2 separate regions of the Homo sapiens genome follow, and region 2 is linked to region 1. Evidence: fine-mapped expression QTL. A gene starts in region 1. The other region holds a variant in brackets. All regions are shown on one strand. Distances are from middle to middle. Region 1 holds the start of CHIT1 (chitinase 1). Region 2 has its middle 8.5 kb from the start of ADORA1.

Region 1 (2,912 bases):
GCAGGGAAAGGGAGGACTTAGGGCTGGTCCATCTGAGTGCTGAGGTCCAACACTCTCAGGGGCCTCGAAGAGGTTACTAGAGCCCTCTGACACCCCTAGACCAGCAGAAGTGGCAGCACTTGGCAGAACCAGGAATAATAGCAGCCACCATGGAGTGCGTTCCCAACAGTCCTCTGAGGATTCCCCTTTACAGATGAAGAAACTGGAGTTCAGGGAAATTAAGGAACTCACTTCAGTTTACACAGATAGTAAATGGCAGAGGAGGAATTCAAACTCAGGAACCTAACTCCACAGCCTGCCGCACCCAATATTCCCACGTGGCCATCTAGGCCATTCATGTTAAGCCCACCGGCCAAAGACTGGATCCCCTAGAAACTGCAGAGCTTTCTCAGGGACCCTGGAGTTCATGCATACACCAGACATTGTCTGCAGACATTACAGTAATATGTGCCCACTTGGGTCCTGTGGTGAATTGAATGGTGACCCCCTCCCACCCCCCGCAAAGGATAACTTCACCTGGAATCTCAGAAGGTGACTGTATTTGTAATAGGGGTCTTTGCAAATGTAATGAAGGTAAAGATCTCAAGATGAGATCATCTTGGATTAGAATGTCCTTCTCAGAGACAGAAAGGAGGGGACATACAGAGACACAGCGAGGAAGGGCGTGTAAAAATGGAGGCAGGCAGAGGCTGGAACGATGCCGTTGCATGCCCAGGAATGCCACAGGCCATCCGAAGCTGGAAGCTGCTGGGAAGTATTCGCCCCTGGAGCCTTCGGAGGAAGCATGGCCCTGCCAACTCCTTGTTTCCAGGCTTCTGACCTCCAGAACTGTGAAAGAATAAACTTCTGTTGTTTCAAATCACCTGTTTGGTGGCCATTTGTTACAGAAGCTCTGGGAAACCGACACAAATGTCCACCATTCTTCTGTTTTTTTTTTTTTGTTTTTTTTTTTTTGATGGAGTTTCACTCTTGTTGCCCAGGCTGGAGTGCAGTGGCGCGATCTCGGCTCACCACAACCTCCGCCTCCTGGGTTCAAGCAATTCTCCTGCCTCAGCCTCCCGAGTAACTGGGATTACAGGCATGTGCCACCATGCCAGGCTAATTTTGTATTTTTAGTAAAGATGGGGTTTCTCCATGTTGGTTAGGCTGGTCTCGAACTCCTGATCTCAGGTGATCTACCTGCCTCGGCCTCTCAAAGTGCTGGAATTACATGTGTAAGCCACCATGCCTGGCCCAAATGTCCACCATTATTATTCTTCATAAGAAACATAGGCATTTCAAGCCATTACCAAACTTATAGTCACTATTTATCATTATCTATTTTTCTCCATCAATGGATATGCAACTATTACTATCATGAAAAGTAAATTATATTTGCAACCCCATTATCTTCTAGATGGAGAAACAGTTTGAGAGAGGGCAGTGGAGAAGCAAGAGAGCTGGTCTGGAACCCAGCTGCCTGACTCGTGAGTCATTTCTCTTCCTCCAAAGCCCTATTAAGTCTGGGGCTGCTTATGGTCCTCACCAACTACACAAAGAAAGTCAGGGTCATGCTCATCCATCAGGAGGTTCAGGGCCACTTCCCGCTTTCCTCTGTTTGGCAACACTAAGAGTCACCCTCTGATTGTTCCAGAAAAGCAAGAATTGCTAAAGGCCATTGTGTCAAGTTTGCCCAATTCATGCTGCTTGACATCTTACCCCTCCCCACCCTGCTCCCATCCCCCCCACCCAGTGCCCCTGATTGCAACACTCCTGGCTGGGGTGGGACAGGGTGGCCAGATAAAAGCAGAGCAGGACCTGGAAAGCTGGTTTGTATGGGCTGCAGCCTGCCGCTGAGCTGCATCATGGTGCGGTCTGTGGCCTGGGCAGGTGAGCCGTCGGATAGTGGGCTGGGTCTCGGGAGCTGTGGGGAGGTGGGGATGTGGATGTTCAGGGACCACTTGCTACCATTTGCAAGGAAGCAGGAGGACTCAGGAGAACTTCAGAGGGTCATTTTATCCCTCTCCATGCCTCCTGGCTTGCAGTCCCTTGATTACCTTTCCTGTGGGCTCCCCCTTAGGCTCTTTCAGCCCAAGAGACTTCATGTTGCAAGGGAAGGCTTTTCTCAACAGGCTGAAGATGACTTGACTTTCCTCTCTCTGTCCTGAAAGCCCAGAGTCAATGAGGCCCCTGCACTGGGTCTTTGTGTCTTTCCCATGTTCTTAGGTCCCTCCTGTTGGCCTTATCCAAGAAGCGCCCACTGCCAAGAACCTCTTCTCCAACCTCATATTGTCTGTCCTGCAAGAGGGCAGCCTGGGGCCAAGATCCTGGGCATCCTTGCAAATTTTCATGGAGGTTCTATTAGGTTGACAGAGAAGTCCAAGGTCACCAGGTGAAAGAGATCTCTTCGAAGGAGTCCTGTCAGACCCTAGGTCTCCAAGGCTGTGGTTGCCTACCACAGCCAGGTAGCGGAAAGGCAACAGGAAGCCATAAACGATGGGAGCAGAGGCACAGGCCCTCCCCAGGAGATGAACTCTCTCCATGCAGCCCTTCCAGATTGATTCTTTCTAGCCCCAAAACAGGCTTGTTTCTTGTTCCGAAAGAGAAACTATCTCTCTAAATAACTCACAAGTCAGCAGTTTTTCCACAATCTTCCTGAATCCACACTGCCCTTTACTGAGGTATAGAGAGGGGGCAGCCTCAGCCCATGGAACTTTCCATCAGCTTCTAGGACCAACCCAGGCCAGGAAGAGACCCCCGTGGTCTGGTCTGCATGAAGGGATGGGCACAGTGCCCTCCTGGGTCCCTTCTGAAAGGAGAAAGCTTGATTTGTATGAAATCAGCCCTCCCTGACCACCTCCTGTGCTTCCGTAAGCTGTGGGGCCTGGGAAGGTGAGAATGGCAGCATAACCCTGGCCTTCTCTCTTGTGTTG
Region 2 (2,912 bases), 110 kb after region 1:
ACCAGTCACAGATTTCTTGGCTTCTCTGCCCCTGTCTGCGGCCAAAGAGGTGCCTCTGGGCAATCCGCCTGCCACCCCACCACTGTCTGGGAGATCCACCATGTGACTCATAAGCGCTCATGCTGTCCTGTGCAGCCCACCCCATCCCAGCCAGCAAATGCACCCCACCTTCCTGGACTCCTCCGACAGCACCTCCAAGGGTTCAAAGGCAAGCAATCCTCTGTTTCCCCTCCCCTCACTAGGCAGAAGGGGAAATTGAGGCAGGGGAGATGATGATATCTGTTGGAGGTGAGGCAGCCTGGTATCTGACTCCCTAATCGCTCCCTTATTCCTCCCCACCCATCAAGAGGTGTCCTTGTCCCTCAAGAAAGACAAATACCCCCACTATCTTCTATATGTTCCAAAAGGGAGAAGAAGGCTGTCAAGACTAGAGAAAAGAAGGAAGGAGGGGCAGAAGTGAAGCTGCCAGACTAAATTCAGGACACCCAATTAAAAACTTTTAACAGCTTTATTGAGATACAATTTACATAATATAAAGTTCACCCATTTAAGGTGCACAATTCAGTGGTTTGAGTTACTTATGGAATTGTACAACCATCACCATCATTTAATTTTAGAACATTTTCATCACCTTTCCTCCAAAAAAACTTTGCACCCATCAGTAGTCACTTCCCAACCCTTCCCTCCACCACCCATCCCTAGCAACCACTAATTTACTTTCTGCCTCCATGGATTTGCCTATTCAGGACATTTCATATAAATGGAATCATATGATACATAGGATACATGGTCCTTTGTGACTGGCTTCTTTCACTTACCATAATGTTTTCAAGGTTCATCTGAACTGTGGCATGTATCCATACTTCATTCCTTTTTAAGGCTGAATAGTATTCCATCCTGTGGACAAGCCACATTTTGTTTATCCGTTCTTCAGTTGATGGACATTTAGCTTGTTTCCACTTTTAGGTTATTGTGAATAATGCTGCTATGAACATTCGTGTACATGTTTTTTTATTTTATTTTTTTTTTGAGACGAAGTTTCACTCTTGTTGCCTAGGCTAGAGTGCAATGGTGTGATCTCGGCTCACTGCAACCTCCGCCTCCCAGGTTCAAGCGATTCTCCTGCCTGAGCCTCCTGAGTAGCTGGGATTACAGGTGTGAGCCACCACACCTGGCTAATTTTTTGTATTTCTAGTAGAGACGGGGTTTCACGATGTTGGC[C/T]AGCCTGGCCTCAAACTCCTGACCTCAGGTGATCCACCCACCTCAGCCTTCCAAAGTGCTGGGATTACAGGCGTGAGCCACCACACCTGGCCCACGTACAGGTTTTTGTGTGAGGATGTGTTTTCATTTTTCTAGGGTAGATACAGACAGAAGAAAAGGCAGAACACATGTCTGGCCCTTTCTCACATTTATCCCCTGTATCATCACCCCACCTGGGTGGGAAGCTATTATGCTCCCCTTTGCCAGATTAAAACACTGAGGCTCAAGGAGAGGCCTGAAACCACTGAGTGCTGGAGCTGAAACGTGAGCTCAGGCCTCCTGATTTCCACTCCAAGGTTCTTTCCAGTTCATCACAATAGCCCACTCAGAGAGTCTGCAGCCCACTGAGGGAACGAAACAGAAGGAACTGAAAAGCAACATCTTCCACGTGAACCATCACCTCATCCTTCTGAAGTCCTAACTAGGTGCTTCATGGACCATGTCCTGGGGTGTAAGGGCTGAGACTGAAGCCAGAGGCTTCATGGAAGGAACGAGTTTTTGCTCCACTCAGTAAAAAGCTAACTGGGATGAAATGGCCCCTGTCCTCAGCCAGTATCCCTGGGTCCCCTGAGAGCCTGCAGGAGAGCCCACCATGTACACATTCTCATAGTTATTTCTCTGAGTGAAGCCCCTCCCAGCAGCGATGGAAGCCAGGTGTGGAAACACTAGGCATTCACTCATTATACTCAGGAATCAGAACTGGTCACAGAGGCTTGGCCACTGATTCCGGCTTCAGCCCATTCCCTCAGCTCCAGTCTTATCCTGGCCCCAACTCCCTGATGTTAAGCAGAACTCAAAGTGCTAGTCTAGAATCATTCCCTTCAGATCTGCCTCACCCCCTCTGCCCTGAACCCTGTCACCAGCGAGCACTGGGCATGGAAGGAAGGGAATTTGCGCTAAGTGCACGTTCCTCAGGTCGGGATAAAGAGGTAGTGGATGGCCTGGGCTCCCTGGTCCTCTGTGGGCTCATCCCAAAGTCCTACCTTCCACACCAGAAAAGCAAACAGCAGCTTGCTAGAGGGGTCCACTCTACAGTTAAAAGCCACTCACTCCATCTGGCTCGTCAAGTGGGGTGGGAGACACAGAGGAGCCCTTCACTTACTGAGCTTTTCTATTTCAATCACTATCCCCGGCCCGAGTTGGACAGACTTCATCCAGGGCTTAAAATAGCTCCCGGGGCATAGAGCTCAAGAAACATTGACTGAATGTTCAATGTTCAAAATAATACACTTCAAGAGTACAAGAAGGAAGTCTCACAACGCTTTATGGTTTAGAATTATTTAACTATCATAGCATTGCCGGTGAAATAAGTATAATCATTTTCCCATTTCTCAGAGGAGGAAACTGAGGCTGGGGGGAGGGAGGTGGGGAAGGTGGATCGGCTGAGCAGCGGGATCTAGAGCCAGAAGCAGCCGCCCAGCTCAGGGCTGTTGTCCGGGGCTCGGGGTCCCCCTGCTGGCCTAACGGAAGCCTGGGCGTGGGCGAGGAGCTGGGCAGGGCCAGACCCCAGTCCCGCAGCCTGAGTTCCCTGCTCCGCCGCGCTAGGTGCTGGGTTCCCGCGGAAGGGAGAAGAAGGAGGAGCCATAGCTGGGCTCAGCATTATAGCGCCTGGCGGAGCACTGCGCAAGGCTTCAGCTGAGATGCTTCACCCG

Evidence for each region.
Region 2: its variant is fine-mapped to the expression of CHIT1 in whole blood (TOPMed, PIP above 0.99).

The regions. Positions count from the first base shown.
Region 1 is chr1:203,228,569-203,231,480 of GRCh38, reverse strand. CHIT1 (chitinase 1) reads left to right here and starts at 1,808. Exons shown (of 11, transcript NM_003465.3): 1 at 1,808-1,869. The coding sequence starts at 1,845.
Region 2 is chr1:203,117,796-203,120,707 of GRCh38, reverse strand. No RefSeq gene overlaps it. Among named protein-coding and RNA genes, the nearest start is that of ADORA1, 8.5 kb to the left of the region's middle. The variant C/T (reference allele first, on the strand shown) is at 1,222.